Regions from separate parts of the Homo sapiens genome. Here all the other regions are linked to region 2. Evidence: fine-mapped expression QTL. A gene starts in region 2. Each other region holds a variant in brackets. All regions are shown on one strand. Distances are between the middles of the regions. Region 1 overlaps LAT2 (linker for activation of T cells family member 2). Region 2 holds the start of CLIP2 (CAP-Gly domain containing linker protein 2). Region 3 overlaps RFC2 (replication factor C subunit 2). Region 4 overlaps CLIP2 (CAP-Gly domain containing linker protein 2).

Evidence for each region. PIP is the estimated chance that this variant, and not a neighbour inherited with it, causes the effect. A credible set is the group of variants that fine-mapping cannot tell apart.
Region 1: its variant is the best candidate, but not a certain one, in a credible set for the expression of CLIP2 in T cells (TOPMed, PIP 0.54).
Region 3: its variant is the best candidate, but not a certain one, in a credible set for the expression of CLIP2 in whole blood (INTERVAL, PIP 0.89).
Region 4: its variant is the best candidate, but not a certain one, in a credible set for the expression of CLIP2 in aorta (GTEx, PIP 0.78).

Annotation. Positions count from the first base shown.
Region 1 is chr7:74,224,571-74,229,967 of GRCh38, forward strand. It overlaps LAT2 (linker for activation of T cells family member 2), which reads left to right. Exons shown (of 14, transcript NM_032464.3): 13 at 69-190; 14 at 4,374-5,264. The coding sequence ends at 172. Among named protein-coding and RNA genes, the nearest start is that of LAT2, 17 kb to the left of the region's middle. RefSeq lists an enhancer at 4,795-5,074. The variant A/C (reference allele first, on the strand shown) is at 2,363.
Region 2 is chr7:74,286,947-74,292,425 of GRCh38, forward strand. It overlaps CLIP2 (CAP-Gly domain containing linker protein 2), which reads left to right and starts at 2,461. Exons shown (of 17, transcript NM_003388.5): 1 at 2,461-2,788. LOC107986742 (a long non-coding RNA gene) reads right to left here and starts at 2,361. Exons shown (of 2, transcript XR_001745024.2): 1 at 2,116-2,361. RefSeq lists silencers at 2,380-2,849, 2,870-2,939 and enhancers at 2,815-3,459, 3,460-4,103.
Region 3 is chr7:74,232,445-74,237,836 of GRCh38, forward strand. RFC2 (replication factor C subunit 2) reads right to left here. Exons shown (of 11, transcript NM_181471.3): 9 at 4,918-4,998; 10 at 3,088-3,201. Among named protein-coding and RNA genes, the nearest start is that of RFC2, 19 kb to the right of the region's middle. The variant T/C (reference allele first, on the strand shown) is at 3,051.
Region 4 is chr7:74,315,942-74,321,402 of GRCh38, forward strand. CLIP2 (CAP-Gly domain containing linker protein 2) reads left to right here. Exons shown (of 17, transcript NM_003388.5): 2 at 1,539-1,726. The coding sequence starts at 1,606. Among named protein-coding and RNA genes, the nearest start is that of CLIP2, 29 kb to the left of the region's middle. The variant A/G (reference allele first, on the strand shown) is at 2,657.

The sequences.
Region 1 (5,397 bases), 62 kb before region 2:
TCTGGGGGAGCAGTCATGGGTGTCTCCATGTGAACCACTCGATGACCTGTCTGCCCGCTGGTCCACAGGGCAACTCCAGAGAGAAGCATCCCCTGGCCCGGTGGGAAGCCCAGACGAGGAGGACGGGGAACCGGATTACGTGAATGGGGAGGTGGCAGCCACAGAAGCCTAGGGCAGACCAAGAAGAAAGGTACAGCCCCTGCTCTCCAGCTGCCGTGGGCCAAGGATTGGAGGTCTTGCCAAGCTGCAGGACCCCCAATCCAAGGGAACAGCCGAGAGTGTGGGTGGAGGGGCCATGGTGGGGGCTACAGGGTGCACCCATGGGTGCTCCAAGAGGGCAGCTTGGCGACTCTGTTCCTCTGTTCTGGCCAGGGGCGTCAGGCAGGGAATTCTGGTGACTTCAGGGGCAAAGAAGTGGGCACCGGGTGGGTCTCCCAACTCCACTGCATCCTCCTGGCTGCGACCTTGGACCAAGTGACAACCTCCCAGAACTTAGTTCCTCACTTGGTGCCCACCTCTCAGAGAAGACATCGCACACACGGCCGGGCACGGTGGCTCACGCCTGTAATCCCGGCACTTTGGGAGGCCGAGGCAGGCAGATCACCTGAGGTCACGAGTTCGAGACCAGCCTGGCCAACATGGTGAAACTTCATCTCTACTAAAAACACAAAAAATTAGCCAGGCATGGTGGTGGGTGCCTGTAGTCCCAGTTAGTTGGGAGGCTGAGGCAGGAGAATCATTTGAACCCTGAAGGCGGAGGTTGCGGTGAGTTAAGATCACATGCACTCAACCCTGGGTGACAGAGCGAGACTCCGTCTCAATAAATAAATAAAAAAACAGACATTGCACACAAAGCCTCAGCCCAGCAGGCACTCGGTCAATGCTGGAAACAGACAGGAGGCAGGGACGTTGGGAAATGTAACAGTGGCTGAGACGCGCTGAGGAGCCACCGCAGGCCAGTGAGATGGTGCGGCGCTAAGCGCTCACACGTGCACCATCTCTTAGCACCCAAAGCCACAGAGCAGTTAAGCCACCTGCCCAAGGCCACATCTTGAAGTAAGGGGAGGAGGAGATGGAATCCCCAGTGGTCAGACATCAGACATCAAAGCCTAGGCTGGGTCTACTGCTTGGGAAGCACGATGGACCCCCAGAGGGCCTTGAAGGCTGCCCAAAGTCCCCATCTGGGAGACCCAGGCCGTCATCTCAGCGAGCAGGCTGGAGGGTGGAAACCACAGTGAACCTGGGTGGTCAAGAGTCAGCCCCAGAGGCAGGTGCAGGAGTTTGAGCCAAATGTGCAGAGCCCCACGTCATTCATTCAACCAGTATCCACTGGGCCCCTGCTACGGGCAAGTCCTGCTCTAGGTGCTGGGAACACCAACATAAAGAACAGCAAACCCCTGACCCCTTAGAACTTGCATTCTGGTAGGAGAGAGAAAACAGATAGGGCTGGACACAGCGGTCATGCCTATAAATCCCAGCACTTCGGGAGGCTGAGGCGGGAGGATCCTTTGAGCCTCTGAGTTTGAGGCCAGCCTGGGCAACATAGCAAGACCTCTCTCTCTACAAAAACTTTTTTTTTTTTTTTTTGAGACAGAGTATCACTGTCACTCAGGCTGGAGTGCAGTGGCGCCATCTCGGCTCACTGCAACCTCCACCTCCTGGGTTCAAGCGATTCTCGTGCCTCAGCCTTCCAAGTAGCTGGGATTACAGGCACACGCCACCATGTCCAGCCTCTATAAAAACATTTAAAATTAGCCAGGCATGGTGGTGGATGCCCTAGAGTCCCACTGACTTGGGAGGCTGAGGTGGGAAGATCACTTGAGCCTGGGAGGTCAAGGTTGCAATGAGCCATGGTTGCTGCAGTGAGCTGTGGTCGTGCCACTGCACTCAAGCCTGGGCAACAGAGCAAGACCCCATCTCAAAAAAAAAATTTAAAAATTAGCTGGGCATAGTGGTGTGTACCTGTAGTCCCAGCTACTTGGGAGGCTGAGGCAGGAGGATCGCTTGAGCCCAGGAGTTCAAGGCTACAGTGAGCTATGATTGTACCACTGTACAGCCAGGATGACAGAGTGAGACCCTGTCAAAACAACAACAACAACAAGAAAACAGATAAGAAGACATGGCATGTTCACTGGTGGTAAGTCTGGCAGAGAGAAACAAAACAGGGAAGCGGGGCAGGAAGTAGTGTGGGGTTGTGGGCAAGACGCAGTGTTGCAATTTAAGGAAGGCGGCTAGGGAAGCCTTTCAGAGCTCCCTTCCTCACCCCATCTGGGGGAAGGACATCCAGGCAGAGGGGACAACAGAGGCCCCAGGGTGGAGTGAGCCCCACAGGTCTGAGCAAAGCCAGGGGCCAGGGAGGAGC[A/C]GGTGAGGGGAAACTAGTGGAGGTCGAGGCCGTTGGTGGGGAGGCTGACCAGGCAGGGCCAGCACTTGGGGTTTTACTGCATGAGATGGGAGGGAGGGAGGGAGATAGAAAGGTTGTTTTTTCTTTTTTTTTTTTTTTCGTTCCTGTCGCCCAGGCTGAAGTGCAATGGTGCAATCTTGGCTCACTGCAAACTCCGCCTCCTGGGTTCAAGCGATGCTCCTGCCTCAGCCTCCCGAGTAGCTGCGATTACAGGTGTCTGCCACCACACCCGGCCAATTTGTATTTATTTTATTTTATTTTGTTTTTTGAGAGGGAGTCTCGCTCTGTCACCCAGGCTGGAGTGCAGTGGCGTGATCTCGGCTCACTGCAACCTCTGCCTCCTGGGTTCAGGTTTCTCTTGCCTCAGCCTCCCGAGTAGCTGGGATTACAGGCACACGCCACAACACCTGGCTAATTTTTGTATTTTTAGTAGAGATGGGGTTTCACCATGTTGGCCAGGCTGGTCTCAAACTCCTGACCTAAAGTGATCGGCCCACCTCAGCCTCCCCAAGTGCTGGGATTACAGGCATGAGCTACCATGCCTGGCTAATGGGAAGGTTTTGTACAAAGACTGGCTGGATGTTTCTAATTCAATTTTTCTGGCTGTTGGGCAGACAAATGGGTACTGGGAGAGTGGGTACAGGAAGCCCAGGAAGGACCCAGGCACTGGTGCCATCTGGGCAAGGGGTGGCAGCAGTGGAGACAGGGGTAGGCAACATGGTGAAACGCTGTCTCTACATAATATACAAAAATTTGCCAGGTGTAGTGGCGCATACGTGTAGTCCCAGCTACTCGGAGGTTGAGGCGGGAGGATAGCTTGAGTCTAGGAGGTTGAGCTGCTGTGTGAGCTGTGATTGCACCACTGCACTCCAGCCTGGGCCACAGAGCAAGACGCTGTCTCAAAACAAAAACAAAAAGAAGAGGCCAGGCGCAGTGGCTCACGCCTGTAATCCCAGCACTTTGGGAGGCTGAGGCAGGCTGATCACCTGAGGTCAGGAGTTCGAGACCATCCTGGGCAACATGGGGAAACCCCATCTCTACTAAAAATACAAAAATTAGCCAGGTGTGGTGGCGTGTGCCTGTAATCCCAGCTACTCGGGAGGCTGAGGCACGAGAATCACTTGAACCTGGAAGGAGGAGGTTGCAGTGAGCTAAGATCGCACCATTGCACTCCAGCCTGGGCAACTACGTCTTAAAAAAAAAAAAAAAAAAAAAAAAAAAAAAGCCAGGCGCGGTGGCTCACGCCTGTAATCCCAGCACTTTGGGAGGCTGAGGCGGGCGGATCACAAGGTCAGGAGATCGAGACCATCCTGGCTAACACAGTGAAACCCCGTCTCTACTAAAAATACAAAAAATTAGCCGGGCATGGTGGCAGGCGCCTGTAGTCCCAGCTACTTGGGAGGCTGAGGCAAGAGAATGGCGTGAACCCGGGAGGCAGAGCTTGCAGTGAGCCGAGATCACGCCACTGCACTCCAGCCTGGGAGACAGAGCAAGACTCTGTCTCAAAAACACAAAAACAAACAAACAAAATGGGCCAGGCGTGGTGGCTCACGCCTGTAATCCCAGCACTTTGGGAAGCCGAGGTGGGCGGATCACGAGGTCAGGAGATCGAGACCATCCTGGCTAACATGGTGAAACCCTGTCTCTACTAAAAATACAAAAAAAAAAAAAAAAAATTAGCTGGGCGTGGTGGCGTAGTCCCAGCTACTTGGGAGGCTGAGGCAGGAGAATGGCGTGAACCTGAGAGGCGGAGCTTGCAGTGAGCCGAGATCGCGCCACCGCACTCCAGCCTGGGTGACAGAGTGAGACTCCATCTCAAAAAAAAAAAAAGAAACCCAGTTATTGATGTGCGGCTTCTGTTCTCAGCCAGGAGGCAGGCTCAATGGTGTCCCCAAACCAGTGGTTATGGTTCTCAGGAACAAAATACTGATCAAGGCAAACCTCCTTCTACAAACTTTCCTCTTCATTTAAGGAGCCAAGGCAAAGAGGGACCACTGTGCTCATGGACCCATCGCTGCCTTCCAAGGACCATTTCCCAGAGCTACTCAACTTTTAAGCCCCTGCCATGGTTGCTCCTGGAAGGAGAACCAGCCACCCTGAGGACCACCTGGCCATGCGTGCACAGCCTGGGAAAAGACAGTTACTCACGGGAGCTGCAGGCCCGTCACCAAGCCCTCTCCCGACCCAGGCTTTGTGGGGCAGGCACCTGGTACCAAGGGTAACCCGGCTCCTGGTATGGACGGATGCGCAGGATTTAGGATAAGCTGTCACCCAGTCCCCATAACAAAACCACTGTCCAACACTGGTATCTGTGTTCTTTTGTGCTATGAATTTGGATTCCTAATTGCTATTGTTGGTTGCTGGGGTTTTAAATGATTGATAAGCTTGTACAGTTAACTTATAGAGGGGGAGCCATATTTAACATTCTGGATTTCAGAGTAGAGATTTCTGTGTTGTCTCCTAGAAAGCATTACATGTAGTTTATTTCAGCATCCTTGTTGGGTGGGGCCCTGGCTCTCTTCCCCTTTGGTGGGACCTCCCCTTTCTTTGGGCTTCAGTTCACTCAGGAAGAAATGAGGCTGTCGCCATCTTTATGTGCTTCCAGTGGAAATGTCACTTGCTACAGACAATAGTGCATGAGAGTCTAGAGAAGTAGTGACCAGAACAGGGCAGAGTAGGTCCCCTCCATGGCCCTGAATCCTCCTCTGCTCCAGGGCTGGCCTCTGCAGAGCTGATTAAACAGTGTTGTGACTGTCTCATGGGAAGAGCTGGGGCCCAGAGGGACCTTGAGTCAGAAATGTTGCCAGAAAAAGTATCTCCTCCAACCAAAACATCTCAATAAAACCATTTTAGTTGAAAAGCAGTGATTATCCTGTGTCTCCTTTCTCCTGCTTCAGGTAAAAAACCTTTTATAAAAATATAAAAATTAGCCGGGCCTGGTGGTGCATGCCTGTAGTCTCAACTACTTGGGAGGCTGAGGCAGGAAAATCACTTGA
Region 2 (5,479 bases):
AGGTCTGTTGACCGCAGGCTGTTGCTCTGAATAATACTGGGGGCCATCAGTGAGGGAGGCAGTACCTGTGAAGGTTGGGGGCCCCTGCCTACCTCCTGAGGCACATGTGGGAGGCTAGATCTGCTGGGCAGGGGCTGGTGAGCTCAGGTACATCCCAGCAAGACCCATGTCACCTTGGCAAATCCCTGCCCCATCCCGTCCCGTCCCGTCCCATCCCATCCCATCCCTTCTGTTGCCCAGGCTGGAGTGTAGTGGTATGATCTCCACTCACTGCAACCTTCGCCTTCTGGGTTCAAGCCATTCTCAAGCTTCACCCTCCCGAGTAGCTGGGATTACAGGCATGTACCACCACACCCAGCTATTTTTTGCATCTTCTGTAGAGATGGGGTTTCATCACGTTGGCCAGGCTGGTCTCGCACTCCTGACCTCAGGTTATCTGCCCGCCACCACCTCCTAAAGTGCTGGGATTACAGGTGTGAGCCACTGTGCCTGGCTGGTTTATAACTGTTGATATACAGGTTATGCATCCCAGCCACAAGGAACAATTAGCTCCCTGTTTCCTGAACACTGCCCTCTCCACCCTGAGTCCCCTCCCTCCCTATGGGTTCACACCTCCTACAGAAGCCCAGTCTTTCTGGAGTTCACTCTGAACCTCCTCCCTTATTAGTCTCCAAGTCTGGCTCTCCACACCAACTGGGCACCCCCTCAGGGCTGACCCCATGCCCAGCCTCCATCATTACAGCATTGCATGTTCGCTGAACTGAATTGAAACACTCTCCCCAATTTACAGATGGGGAAACTGAGGTCAAAATGTTTAGGCCAGGCACGGTGGCTCACAGCTGTAATCCCAGCACTTTGGGAGGCTGAGGTGGGAAGATCATCTGAAGCCAAGAGTTTAAGACCAGCCTGGACCCCAACATAATGAGACCCCATCTCTATAAAAAACACAAAAAATTAGCCGGGCATGGTGCATGCCCGTAGTCCCAGCTACTCTGGAGGCTGAGGCAGGAGGATCATTTGAGCCTGGGAGTTTGAGGCTGCAGTGAGCTGTAATCACACCACTGCACTCCAGCCTGGGTGACAGAGTGAGACCCCTTCTCTAAAAAAAGGTTCACTCACTTCTCAAAGATTATGGATACCAAGACAGTTGAGGGGTGGTAATGTTAACTTAGTAAGTTCATTCATTCATTCAACAAATATTACTGGATGTCTACCCTCTGCCAAGCATTGCACTGGGTCCCTTAGGGGATAGGAACAAGATCGTATGTGGCACTTCTCTCCCGCAGAACAGTGGTCTCACCATACAGACCACAACCTCCCCCAACACCCACATTCCTGCACTCAAGGGAAAAGCAGGGACATTTAAGCTGTGCTTTGAAGGGGGAATATGATTTGTCAAACAGAGAAAGGGGGCAGGGCAGGACTGGTAGAACGGCCAGCTAGGTCAAAGGCATCCAGGCGAGCTTATCAAGGGGGGACAGAGGGAAACCAAGCCACAGAAGCCAACCGCAGCCTGGGCATGGACAGGGGCTGGGGCTTGGTCACTGTTTAGTTCCTGAGCTGTCACTTGGCATCTGCCTCTCCACGCAGGAGGGGACCTGGCAGCTGCCTCAACTCCTCTGAAATAGCAGTACATGCATCCTGTCCTGGGGAGGGTTCATTTGTATCTTGGAAGCTGATCACCATGAGATCCTTTTTTTTTTTTCTTTTGGGACGGAGTCTCGCTCTGTCACCCAGGCTGAAGGGCCGTGGCTTGATCATGACTCACTGCAGCCTCGACCTCCTGGGCTCCAGCGATCCTCCCACCCCAGCCTCCCCAGTAGCTGGGACCGCAGGCGCGCGCCCAGCTAATTTTTGTATTTTTTGTAGAGACGAAGGTTACGTTGCCCAGGTTGTTCTCGGACTCTTGGCCTCAGGCGATCTGCACGCCTTGGCTTCCTGAAGTGCTGGGATTACAGGCGTGAGACACTGCCCAGGCTATGAGATCCTTGATAACCATGAGACCCTGTGCCACAGTTCCCCACCCACGCTGGCCCCAACACAGACCTGAAGTTTTCGCCCCAGCTGCACTGTCCCCCTCCTCATCCTTTCTGTCCAGCGCCAACAGCATCTCACCTTCCCAAGCTGCCGTCCTTCCCAATGACCAGAGACATCTTTGCAAGCATAGCATGGCTGGAGGATGCGTTTCACCAAACGCGATGTAAGCACCACCAGGTGCCCAGCGCGGAGGTGGATGTGGGCGAACCCTGGACGCCCCACAAAGGACAGCTGCGGCCTGGGAAGGGAAGGAGATGGAGCGGGGAGAGGGGGAAGAGGTTGCTCCGCGTTTTCCGCCCGCCCGCCTGCTTTCCGCGAGGCACTGAGGCCTGAAAACCGCGAGGCCGCCCACGCGCGCCTGACCCGCCCCCCCCTCCCGCCCGCCCCAGGCCCCGCCCTCCCGCGCCCGCCCCTGCGCCGGCCCCTTTTGTTCCCTCCCGGAGCCGGGCCGCTGGCTCCGCTGGCTCCGCTGGCTCCGCGGGCGCTCAGCTCGGCTCGGCCGCGGGGCGCGCAGGCGGCTGCTGGGCGGCCTCGGTGCGCGCCTCCCGCCTTCCCAGAGACGTGGCGCGAGGCCCGGGCCCTGAGCACCTATCGCGGGGATCCCCGGCGCCAGGAGGGGGTGCAGCCGGTGGGCAGCGCCGCGCAGGGAGGGGCCGCAGCATCCTCGCCCCCCAGCGCGCCCGGGCCCGAGAGGAGGAGGCCGGGGCTCTCCGGGCCTCCCGCCGCTTAGCCTGATGCTGGAAGGACGAAGGTAGGGGCTGCTGGAGGGGCCGAGGGAGGGGGTCGCGCGGGCAACAAAGGACGGAGAGATGCGGGGGGCGGCGGCCTGGCCGAAAGCGGGGCTGCGGGCCCGGAGGCATTGTCGGGGCGTGGGCGGGGGCGGGAGGGTTCGAGGCCGGCCGGTGGGCGTGGGCGGGAGCTGGCTGGGGTGTGCCCCAACTTCCCCGTTGCTTGTAGGAGAGGAGGGGGCACTGCTTGGGGTGCCAGGGTTGGGGGCTATTCCCGGGCTGCGGGTCCCCCTGTTGAAGGCATCACCAGCCTCATCGGGGTCCCTACCCTCGGACGGGGGTTTGGCCCTTCTGTTGGAGGGTCGCCCGTACCCCCTTCCAAGGGCAGAGCAAGACGGCTGGACGCGCCGCAGGGCTCTCTGGGCTCACAGAGCCTGGGGAGCACAGCCTGGTGGGCGCGGCCATGCAGCCCCCATCTCCAAACCTGGGGTCTGGGAGAACAGGGACTGCCCCCCTCTCCTCCCTGCTACACCCTCTGGGGTCGCCTGGCCGATGGCCTTTGCAAAACTTGGTTGAAGTGCTTGGCTGAGGTGGGGTAGGAGGAGATTGAGGCGGGCGGCTTCTCTCAGGGGGTGTCCCCCCAAGCTGGCGCTGGTGGCTGGTGAGGCAGCAGATTTTCTGCCCTCCTCCCGGGGAGGGGCGGCGGCCGCGGAGGATGCTTGGCTGAACCTTCAGGGCCCGCCCGTTTGGACCTTTCAGGCAGAGCTTGGGCCGAGCGGGTGCCCACTGGGCACTGCCACGCAGGCCCCAGCCCCACCCTGGGAAGGACGGGCAGAGGGAGCACCTTGGGGGGAAATCACCCACCCAGCAGTGTGTCCCCCAACGTCTGAGACCCCTCCTCTCACTTCTGGGTGAGAAGTGGGGGTCTGGGATGAGGGGGTCTGCCGTCACTCTTGCGCGATGCCTGAGGGAGGTGGGTGGGGTGGCCTAGGGCTGTGGGCAGAGGAGGAGGAGGGTGCGGGGAGCACCACGTGTGTGCTTCAGAAGCCTCTTCCCTTTCGGTTGTAAATGTAAACAATAAGCCCTTCATTCAGCTGCTGTTACCTGGCCTGGCACTTCTAGGGGCTGGCTGGTCCACAGGACAGCAGCCTCGGTGTCCCCAAAAAGTGCAGCCCCGGGGGTTGATGAGTGCATTAGTGGGGAAGCTGGGGGCATAGAGGGGGTCCCCTGGAGGATGGGGCAGACCAGGAAGCTTCATAGAGCATCTTGCAGAAGTTTGCTGCCAGGTTGCCTGAAGGGGGTTTCGTGCAGGAGAAATAGCGTGAATAAGGGCTTGGAGTCAGAAAAGGAGGCTATTGGGTTAGAGAAACAGCTTAGGATTTAAGGAACTTAGACCTGCGTTGAGCACAGGATGCATTCTTGTCTGCAGTGCCTTGCGGGGGAATGATGGGATTCTGGCTTCAGGACAGGTGGAGGCGGTGGAGATGGAGAGGGGCTCCAAAGGCAGAAGAGGCAGGTGGAGGCGCCTGGGAGGAGCCTCCTCCACACACACCTGTGTGCACCTGCAAACTCCAGCCCTCAGCACCGTGCAGGCTGGGAAGGTGGTGCCTGGAATTCTGCACTCAGAGCCCAAAGTCCCAGCAGGGGGAATTTACTCCAAGGAGCAGTAATCGCTTTCCGGCATCTGCTGTCTACCTTGGCGGTGAAGAGTTCAGATGCTGGAGCTTAACAGCCCGGGTTCAAATCCCAGCTCTGCCACTCCCTAGCTATGTGACCTTGCACATTGCATCTCTCTCTGCCTCGACATCCTCATCTGTAAAATTGGGATCCTTATGGTATCTGGCTTTTAGGGTTGTTAGGAGAACTGTGTGCCCTGTGACAGAGTAGATGTCCTATAAGTGTTGTTGCTGCCGTACAGAGTGGCTTCCTGGCCCCACTCACACACGTTTCAGGGAGAGGAGGCTCGTGCCCCTTCCAGGCTGTTTGTCCTTCTTCAGCACCCTTGCTGGTTAGCCCTGACCCGGCACCTGCTGTTCTCTGCCTCACTGCAGCCTCCTCCCTGGTCCTGCCTCCCTTGGTGATAGAAAGGCCATCTCCCCACAGCCCCAGTTGTCCCTGCTCCCCACCTGGCAGGCCTGCCCACGTGTGGTCCCCCAGTTCCCTCTTGGCCTCCCCTCCTGGCCCTGCCACCCTGACAGTTGATCCTGCCCTCTTTTTTTTTTTTTTTTTTGAAATGGAGTTTCACTCTTGTTGCCCAGACTTGAGTGCAATGGCGCGATCTTGGCTCACTGTAACCTCTGCCTCCTGGGTTCAAGCAATTCTGCCTCAGCCTCCCAAGTAGTTGGGATTACAGGCATGTGCCACCATGTCCGGCTAATTTTAGTATTTTTAGTAGAGACGGGGTTTCACCATGTTGGCCAGGCTGGTTTTGAACTCCTGACCTCAGGTGATCCACCTGCCTCAGGCTCCCAAAGTGCTGGTATTACAGGCGTGAGCCACTGCACCCAGCCAGTTCTGCCCTCTTGACACCACCTGCTCTACCTCCACTTCCATACACAGGGGAGGGAAGCTGCATTTGTGACCCTCAGATTCCCTGCTCATTGGTTCTTGTGAGAACTTCAGCTTTTGTGCAGGTTGAAAAAAAAAGTATATATTAAGTGCTTACTTTGTGGAGAATTGTTCTGAGCTTTTTTGAGACAGCATCTTGCTCTGTC
Region 3 (5,392 bases), 55 kb before region 2:
AGAAACTGTTAAGAAAATGGGTGGGGCGAGGGGGGGCGGGGTGGTGGCACGGAAAGCCAGGCTAGAGGAAAATATTTATATATCTGATAAAGAACTTGCATCCAGACTGTATAAAGAATTCTCAAAAATTCAGTAATAAAGTCCAGGCGTGGTGGCTCATGCCTGTAATCCCAGTACTTTGGGAGGTCAAGGCAGGTGGATCACGAGCCCAGGAGTTCGAGATCAGCCTGACCAACATGGTAAAACCCCATCTCTACTAAAAATACAAAAATTAGCCAGGTATGGTGGCGCACGCCTGTAATCCCAGCTACTCGGGAGGCTGAGGCAGGAGAATCACTTAAACCTGGGAGGCGAAGGTTGCAGTGAGCTGAGATAGTGCCACTGCACTCCAGCCTGGGCAACAGAGCAAGACTCCATCTCAAAAATAAATAAGTAAATAAATTCAGTAATAAAAATCAAACAACCCAATTAAAAAATGGGTAGATTTAGACCTGGAGCAGTAGCTCACACCTGTAATCCCAGCATTCTGGGAGGCTGAGGCAGGAGGATCACTTGCCCAGAGTTGGGCCTGGGCAACATAGCAACACCCAAACTCTACGAAAAAAAGAAAATAAAAATGACCCAAGTGTAGTGGCACATGCCTGCAGTCCCAGCTACTCGGGAGCCTGAGGTGGGAGGATTGCTTGAGCATGGAAGGTTGAGGCTGCAGTGAACTATGATCGCACCACTGCACTCCAGCCTGGGTGACAGAGCAAGACCCTGTCTCTCAAAAACATAAAAAAGGTAGGCCAGGCGCAGTGGCTCACACCTGTAATTCTAGCACTTTGGGAGGCCGAGGCGGGAGGATCACTTGAGCCCGGGAGTTCAAGACCAGCCTTGGCAACACGGGGACACCCCGTCTCCACCAAAAATATAAAAATTGGCCGGTCTTAACATGATCTCTAAACAAAAAATACAGTACAATTAAAATAAAAAATGTAAAAATTTTAAAAAATGGGTATATATGAACAGATGTTTCATCAAAGAAGATTCTGGATGGCAAACGAGCACATGATTAAATGTTCAGCATAGTAATTAGGGAAATGCAAATTAAAGGCACAATGAGATCTCATCACATGCCTATTAGGTTATTTTGTTGTTGTTGTTATTGGTTTTTTTTTTTTTTTTTTTTTTAAGATGGAGTCTCACTCTTGTCGCCCAAGCTGTAGTGCAGGGGTGTGATCTCAGCTCACTGCAACCTCCACCTCCTGGGTTCAAGCGATCCTCCTCCCTCAGCCGCCCGAGTAGCTGGGATTACAGGTGTAAGCCACTGCATCCGGTCATTACACACCTATTAGAATGGCTTAAAAACCAAACTGAGCACTCCATGTGGTGGCTAGGTTGAGGATCCTCCGGAATGCTGGTGGGAATGCACGTGCTGCAGCCACTTCGGAAAACCGTTTGGCAGTTCCTTATCGAGTAAAACATACACTTATCATTTTCCCAGGCAATTTCACCCCTGGGAACTTACTTGGGAAAAAGAAAAACTTAACATTTGCATTCACACTAATCCATATATGCAAATGTTTACACTGGCTTTATTCACAGTCACCACAATCTGTAAACCCAAATGTCCTCCAGCTGATGGACAGATAAGCAAACTGTGGTACACGCACAGGATGGATTACTTCTCAGTGATAACACGGACTGACTCATGGATAGAAGTACCAGCGTGGACACATCTGAAAGGCATTTCTGCTACAGTGAAAGAAAGAAGCCAAACTCACAAGGCTAAGTTCTACATGATCCCATTTATATGATATTCTGGAAAACTGTATCCCATGAAACAGAAACTACATCGGTAGTTTCCAAGTGGTAGTCGGGGAGGGGGCTGGCTTCAAAGGGACACATGAGTTGTTCTGGGATGACAGATTCTGCATCCTGATGGTGATAGTGTTTGCATGACTGAGTGCGTTTGTCCTGTACCTAACAGGCTGAATTTTACTCTATGTAAATTAAACCTCAATTAATCTAACCTTGAAAAATCAATCAATCAGTCAATACACAAGAGAGCCTTGAATGAAGAAAATCAGAACTGTGTGAAACAAACTTGGTCCTCAGGACAATCAGCCACGTTGATCTAGTTTGGACGTCTGTCCCCTTCCAATCTCATTTGGAATTTGGTCCCCAATGTGGGGATGTTTGGGTCATGAGGAAGATCCCACGTGAATGGCTTGGTGCCCACCCCAAGGTAGTGAGTGAGTTCTGGATCAATTAGGTCCCTGGAGAGCTGGCTGTTCAAATGAGCCTGGCACCTCCCTCCGTTCTCAACAGGTGGTCTCTGCATGCACAGGCTCCCACTTCCCCTTCCAACATGAGCAGAAGCAGCCTGAACCCCTCCCTAGAAGCAGATGCTGGCATCATGCTACATGTACAGCCTGCAGAACTGTGAGCCAAATCAACCTCTTTTCTTTCTACATTACCCAGTCTCTGGTATTCCTTTATAGTAACTCAAAGGAACTAAGACACAGCCTCCCTCCCACTGCAGTTGGGAAACACTGAGCACCTTCTAGATGCCAGGCCTGTGAGCAGAGAAAGCGAAGCCAGGGCCCACAGTCTTTTTTTTTTGTTTTGAGACAGTCTCGCTCTGCTGCCCAGGCTGGAGTGCAGTGGTGCGATCTTGGCTCACTGCAACCTCCACCTCCCAGGTTCAAGCGATCCTCCTCCCTCAGCCTCCCAAGTAGCTGGGATTATAGGCGCTTGCCACCACACCCAGCTAAGTTTTGTATTTTTAGTAGAGATGGGGCTTTGCCATGTTGGCCAGGCTGGTCTCAAACTCCTGACCTCAGGTGATCCGCCCACCTCGGCCTCCCAAAGTGCTGGGATTACAGGCATGAGCCACCACGCCCAGCCATGCCCAGCTAATTTTTGTATTTTTAGTAGACAGAGGCTTTCACTACGTTGGCCAGGCTGGTCTCGAACTCCTGACCTCAGGTGATCTGCCCACCTCGGCCTCCCAAAGTGCTGGGATTACAGGTGTGGCCCACAGCACCCGGCCACTATGGGCCACA[T/C]TCTTGAGGACAGAGGCATTTCTACATTCTCACCGACCTTGATAAACTCCAGTTTCAGGTATTCTGCCATTTGGAAAGTTTTACACACTCGAAAGATGTTGCCAATGATATCTTCTGGTGAGTAGCCCAGATGCCACAAGTGAGCAAGAATCTAGACAAAGGAGACAGAAAAGGCTGCTTACCACTTTAAACTGTAAGAAGACATGTGATTTTGAGACTCACCACAGCTGGTGGGGCCCACCCTTCAGGTCACATGGGGGTACCTTAACTGATTTTCATGGCAGATAGAGAGATAACATTGCAAATGTATTGTTGTTTTGCTTAAATATTTTTTTTTCAGTAATATAAAGATAAGAGTCTTGCTATATTGCCCAGGCTGGTCCCAAGTTCCCGGCCTCAAGCAATCCTCCTGCCTCGACCTCCAAAAGTGCTGGGATTACAGGCATGAGCCACTGAGCCCAGCCTATCGCAAATGTGTTAAGCTGTGTTGCAAAATGGTCTACTACCACACCCATGTAATCTCTTGATCCGGAGCTCTTAAAATGCTTTATTAATCTGATGACTAGGTATAGCAAAGTGGAAAAAGCAGACCATTCATCTGCTAGCTTCATCCAGCTGCAGTCCCAATGCAACCTCTGCAGGACGAGCCTGGAGCACACCCTGACTGGGTAATCCCAGCCTCCTGCTTCCCACCCACCCTGCCCCACCCAGGCTGCAGCGTCTGGAGGCAGGCCTTTTTGCCTTTGTTTTGGCATCTTGGGGTGAATTCAGGAGGCAGAGAAGCTCTGTGCCCACAAATCTGAAGGCTTTCTTCAGGTCTACTCAGGGACCCTGGGCCTGGGTCTCTGCTCAGTCTCCCCGCCTTGCACTCCGGTTTCACATTGGGTGGAACTATGCCCTAAACCCAGTCAACTTCCAACCTAGTTTGTTAGGGGGTAGGCAGAGGGAAACCATGACTGGATCAATGACCTTGAACCACACCAACCACACCACACCCATGTGGCTTGAGGTCGCCTGAACCCCAGCCACATCTGCTGGAATCTGCTCACAGCACTCAGTCCCATTGTGAGGCTAGAATCTTCCTGCTCCCTCCTCTCCTGGCTAGCTGGGGGCTGCTGGATCCCAGAATGCCTGTGCCTATGAGAATGGATGGGGACACTTCCCCTTAACTGGAGAGAAGATGGCTTCCCTGGAGAAGGAGCTAGGCTGGTCTTTCCTCCTGACTTTGGCTGACAAATTTCTCCTGCAGAGGATATAATTACAGGAGAAAAACACCATTTTGAATTCTAGTTCTACTGCTTTTAAACCATGACTTAGGGCTGGGCATAGTGACATGTGCCTGTAGTCCCAGCTACTTGGGAGGCTGAGGTGGGAGGATCGCCTGAGCCTGAGAGGTAGAGGCTACAGTGAGCTGTGACCGCGCCAGTGCATTCCGGCCTGGGCAACAGAGTAAGACCCTGTTTCTACATAAATAAATAAATAAATAAATAAACAAACACAGTGATTTAGGACAAGGAATTCAGCCTCTGAATCAGTTTTCTCATCAGTAAAGTGCACCCAACTCCTAGCATAATTTTTTTTTTCCAGTTCCTAGACAGATTAACACATAGCATGATATTAATAATTTTTTTTTTTTCCTGAGACAGGGTCTCACCATCACCCAGGCTGGGGTACAGTGGCGCAATCACAGCTCACTGCAGCCTTGACCTCCAAGGCTCAACAAATCCTCCTGCCTCAGTCTCCCAAGTAAGATTTCAAGAATGAATGGAGTGATGTGTATAATGTCCCTGGTACCAGAAGGGCTCCCGCTCTCCTCTGCCCAAGAAGTGAGCGGTTCCTCTGCCAGGACGGGGGGAAGGAGGCCAACCTTGTAGGCTTCGTCAATGTTGGCATTCACACAGTGCTGGATCATCTCCTTTACCAGCAGTGGGTGGGGCTCGTCACAGACCTGGCCAAAGGGAAAGGAAAGGCGGTCAGGGGCTAGAAGGGACAATGTGAGCGGGGAGGCCCCAACAGACCGACTTCCAGGCAATCTATGGGTAAAACTTCTCAACCTGTTGTTTTCATCAAATTCTCCAGCAACCAGGATGAGTTTGGGGAATGCTCCTCTCACCATCAAAGAGAAGTGCTTCCGGCACCAGGAAGATAAATTTCCCAAACATAAGACAGATGAACAAGAGAGCAACCAAGGGCCTGTGAAGGATGCTCACTTGGGGACAGCTTTAAAGTCACAAGTCATCTGTCTTAGATCACTTGGGGGGTCAGTTGCCCAGAACCACTTGGAATTCACTTTAGAACTGGGAGGTCTTTTGGGCCAATTCCCACCTCCACCCCGGAGTAGG
Region 4 (5,461 bases), 29 kb after region 2:
AAACGTGTGCCATGGTGGTTTGCTGCACCTATCAACCCATCACCTAGGTATTAAGCCCAGCATGCATCAGCTATTTTTCCTGATGCTCTCCCTCCCCCCGCCCCCACAACAGGCCCCATTGTGTTGTTCCCCTCCCTGTGTCCATGTGTTCTCATTGTCCAGCTCCGACTTACAAGTGAGAACATGTGGTGTTTGGTTTTCTTTTCCTGTGTTAGTTTGCTGAGGATAATGGCTTCCAACTCCATCCATGTCCCTGCAAAGGACATCATCTTGTTCTATTTTACGACTGCATTTTTTTGTTTTTGTTTTTGTTTTTGTTTTGAGACAGAGTCTTGCTCTGTCACCCAGGCTGGAGTGCAGTGGTGCCGTCATAGCTCACTGCAGCCTTGGCCTCTCAGGCTCAAAAAATCCTCCCACCTTTGCCCCACAAGTAGCTGGGACTACAGGCATGCGCCACCACGCCTGGCTAATTTTTTATTTTTTATTTTCTGTAGCGACAAAGTCTTGCTACGCTACCAAGGCTGGTTTTGAACTCCTGGCCTCAAGCAATCCTCCCACCTTGGCCTCCCAAAGTGTTAGGATTACAGGTGTGAGCCACTGCCCCCAGCCCTTTTAGGGCTTTTTTTTTTTTTCTTTTGAGACAAGAGTCTCACTCTGTTGTCCAGGCTGGAGTGCAGCAGCGTGACCTCGGCTTACTGCAACCACCGCCTCCTGGGTTCAAGTGATTCTTGTGCCTCAACCTCCCGAGTAGCTGGGACTACAGGCATGTGCTACTAAGCCTGGCTAATTTTTGTATTTTTAGTAGACACAGGGTTTCACCATGTTGGCCAGCCTGGTCTTGAACTCCTGACCTCAAGTGATCCACTCGCCTCAGCCTCCCAAAGTGCTGGGATTACAGGCATCAGCCACTGCACCTGGCCCCTTTTAGGGCTTTTAATGACCATAGTCAGCATGCAGCTCACGCTTTGAAAAGGTTTTACTCTGTCACCCAGGCTGGAGTGCCCTGGAGCTCACTGCAGCCTCAAACTCCTGGGCTCAAGCGATCCACCAGCCTCAGCCTCCCAGAGTGCTGGGATGACAGGCCACTGTACCCAGTCTAAAAGTGGTCTTTGTTGCAAACAGTTTGATGGATGCTCTTGGGATAGAAGATGAAACATCTTTCAATTGTAATAAATTTCTGCAACCAAATAAATAAAGACACAAAGCTTTAATGGTGGGAAGGCAGGCAGAGGTCATGGCTAGATGACGGCCTGGTGTGGAGTTGAGGCAGGTAACTGCACACCAGGATATAAGAGGGTAAGGCAATAGCCTCTCTGTGTGTTTGTCCTGCCCATGCAGTAGAGGGGGTGCGTGCTGGGATGGTGAGTCTGAGAGCGGGAATCTGGCCTGTGCGGCAACGGGAGCAGTGAGCTGATAGGTTAAATCGGGTGTTGCCTCGTCCAGCCCACCTCAGGAGGGATGTGTGTTGCTTGATGGCCCTTGAGGGTCTGGGGGCCATTGGGAAGTGATGATGTGATCTCTCCTGTCTCTGCCCGCAGGTGAGTGAAGATGGCAGAGAGGACGTGACCAGCACTCACCCTTGTCCACCTGCCCAGTGGCACCGCCATGCAGAAGCCCAGCGGCCTGAAGCCCCCCGGCCGTGGGGGGAAGCACTCCAGCCCCATGGGCCGGACATCTACTGGGTCAGCTTCATCCTCGGCGGCGGTGGCCGCTAGCTCCAAGGAAGGTACGTGGCACACCAAGGATGGGGGGTGAGGGGACTGGCTACATGGGATGAGTGTTCTTCTGGAAGAGCCCCAGGAGCACAGGCCACTCTGTGACCAATCTGATGGGGGACGCTGAGTGTCATGAGCTCCTGTAATGGGGCCTGATCAACACTGGGAGGTTGGCAGAGGTTTCCCCAGGGAGGGGACATGGGCGCTGAGGTCTGGAGGGTGAATAGGTGATTCACTAGCTGAAGAGGAAAAGGTTCAGGTACGGTGGCTCACGCCTGTAATCCCAGCACTTTGGGAGGCTGAGGCGGCTGGATCACTGGAGGTCAAGAGTTCGAGACCGAAACCAGCCTGGCCAACTTGGTGAAACCCCATCTCTACTAAAAATACAAAAATTAGCCAGGCGTGGTGGCAGGTGCCTGTAATCCCAGCTACTCGAGAGGCTGAGAGAGGAGAATCGCCTGGGCAACAGAGTGAGACTCTGTCTCAAAAATAAAAAAAAAAAGAGGGAAGAGTATTCCAAGTAGAGGGAACAGCACATGCAAATGCTCAGAGGCAGAAAGGAGCGTCATGCGTACAGAAGAGGGAGAGAGCGTGGGGGTGGCTGGGGCAGTCTGCTGCAATGCAGGTGGACCTGGGTGACTTGGAGGTGTGCGGGGAGTTTCATTTTCATCCTAATAATGAGAGCTACGGGAGGGTTTAAACCAAGATGAGTATGATGGAAGGAACTAGCAGCAATTTCTTACCTATTCTCTGCAGTTTAAAAAACTGTAATTGAGCTGGGCATGGAGGCTCATGCCTGTAATCTCAGCACTTTGGGAGGCCGAGGTGGAAGGATCACTTGAGGTCAGGAGTTCAAGACCAGCCTGGGCAACATGGGAAAACCCTGTCTCTGCTAAAAATACAAAAATTAGTCGGGCATGGTGGCGGGCGCCTATAGTCCC[A/G]GCTACTTGGGAGGCTAAGGCAGGAAAATCGTTTGAACTCAAGAGGAGGAGGTTGCAGTGAGCCGAGATCACACCACTGCACTCCAGCCTGGGCTACAAGAGTGAAACTCCATTTAAAAAAAAAATGACGATCGTTTGTTACTTATCACTTTGATAAATGATGCTGTGATGAACATCTTTGTGCACAAAGCCTGGCTTTGATGATACTCCAGCCAGCAGGATAGGTCACTGCCCATCTTATCTGATTGGTACAAAGTTTGGAGAGACAAACACAGCTGGGGCCAGACTGGACAACCTGGGTCCTGGGGAAGGGGGTCAAGGAAAGTTTGAGCCAAAATCATGGGCAGTTGGCAGGACAGGGTCCCTGGCAGAGCCAAATGGGCAGCGTGAAAGGGCGAGGAAGCTGCAGGGTGAGGCCCGTCGGCAGAAGCCCATGGGAAAGGCCTGCCCAGTGCAGCCTTGTGAAGGCCCAGGCTCTGCTCTAGGGTGGCAAATCCTCTCCAGCAGTGAGAAGCCAGACAAGAGAAAATTCGGGGGATGAGGTGGGGTGGGGAAGAGGTGTTCCACGTGGAGGGAATGGGTGATGCAAAGGCCCTGAGGCTGGAATGAATTTGATTTGTTAAGAAAGAAAAAGGCCGGGGACGGTGGCTCATGCCTGTAATCCCAGCACTATGGGAGGCCAACACTGGAGGATCACCTAGGTCAGGAGTTCGAGACCAGCCTGGCCAACATGGTGAAACCCCGTCTCTACTAAAAATACAAAAATTAGCGGGATGTGGTGGCACCTGTAATCCTAGCTACATGGGAGGCCGAGGCATGAGAATCGGTTGGACTTAGGAGGCGGAGGCTACAGTGAGCCGAGCTCATGCCACTGTACTCCAGCCTGGGCAACAGAACAAGACTCTGTCAAAAAATAAAATAAAATAAAGAAAGAAAGAGAAGCCAGCATGGTGGCTCACGCCTGTAATCCAGCACTTTGGGAGGCTGAGGCCAGAGGATCACTTGAGCCTAGGAGTTCCAGACCAGCCTGGGGAACATAGTGAGACCCCAGCTCTACAAAAAAAATTTTTTTAATTAGCCAGGCATGGTAGTGTGTGCCTGTAGTCCCAAGTACTCAGGAGGGTGAGGCAGGAGGATTGCTTGAGCCCAGGGGTTGGAGGCTGCAGTGAGCCATGATCACACCGCTGCACTCCAGCCTGAGTGACAGAGTGAGACCCTAAAAAAAAAAGAGAGAGAGAAAGAAGAAAAGTCTGGATGGAGAGGAGTGTGAAAAGAGGTTAGGGAGGGCAGCCAGGACAGATCTGAAGGACACAGGGTTTGGGTTTGTTTTAAGAGTGGTGGGGGCTGGGCACAGTGACTCAAGTTTGTAATCCCAGCTCTTTGGGAGGCTGAGGCGGGAGGATCACTTGAGGTTAGGAGACCAGCCTGGCCAACATGATGAAACCCTGTCTCTACTAAAAATACAAAAATTAGCTGTAATCCCAGCTACTCGAGAGGCTGAGGCAGGAGAATTGCTTGAACCCGGGAGGCGGAGTTTGCAGTGAACTGAGATTGCGCCACTGCACTCCAGCCTGGGCAATAGAGTGAGATTCCATCTCAAAAAAAAAAAAAAAAAAAAAGAAAGAAAAAGGAAAAAGAGCAGTGGGGGCCGGGCACAGTGACTCAAGCCTGTAATCCCAGCACTTTGGGAGGCTGAGGCAGGAGGATCGCTTGAGCAGTAGAGTTTGAGTCCAGCCTGAGCAACACAGCAAGACCTCTCATCTCTACTTAAAAAAAAAATTAGGCACGGTGGTGTATACCTGTGGTTCCAGTTACTTGGCAGCCTGAAGTAGGAGATCCGCTTGAGCCCAGGAGGTCGAGGCTGCGGTGAGTTTTGATCACACCACTGCACTCCAACCTGGGTGACCCAGCGAGACCCTGACTCAAAAACAAAACAAAAAAAGGATGGTGGGAGCGGCTGGAGGATACCAATGGAAGAGTGATGGGACCTTGTTCACATCCCTTGGGCCACTGTGCAGAGAACGGATTGTAGGGTTAAGAGCCAGGTGGGGATACCAGTGAGGAGGCTGTGGTTATCCGGGGGAGGGAAGGGCTCATTACCATGCGTGGGCAATCAGGGAAGACTTCCTGGAAGAAGCGTGAATGAGCTCAGCCTTGATAATGGGGGCAGGGCAGTGGGTGGAGTTTGAAAATGAGAAGAGGAGGAGGAGGAAGGATCTGCAGACAGTGGGGGAAGGTCGTGAGTCAAGGCACCCAGTGGGCTGAGCTTGGTCCAGTGAGGAGTGAGGCTGTGTAACCTAATGGCTAGAGAAGGGCACCCGCCCAGCCCAACCCTGGGGCTGGGGCATGGCGTGCAGCGAGAGAGTCTTATTGAACCTTCTGGGTACTTTCCCCTTTGTTCCTCCCCGATCTAGAGAGGCCCAAATTCTGGCTGTGATCCAGCTCTCATGCCCCTCCTAGCCCTGCTCCTGCTGTGTGACCCTGGGAGAGTGACCTAACCTCTCTGAGCCACAAATGGGATAATAGCATCTCCCTAATGGGATCAAGCGAGTTAATGAACATGGAGTGCCTGCAGGTAGAAAACTCATTAAAGATTAATTTCTTTCCCTTTCACCCATCCATCATCTCATTACAGGAAAATTTGAAAGTGATAAAAGAAAAAAACGTCCATTATCCTTTAACCTTCTCCCTTCCCCCTTACCACTTAACCTCATCACTGCACAGCCTAACCAGGATTCCGTGAAGGATGGACCATGTTTATCGTGGTCCCACAGGATTCTAACAGAGCTGAGCATTTCCTATTGC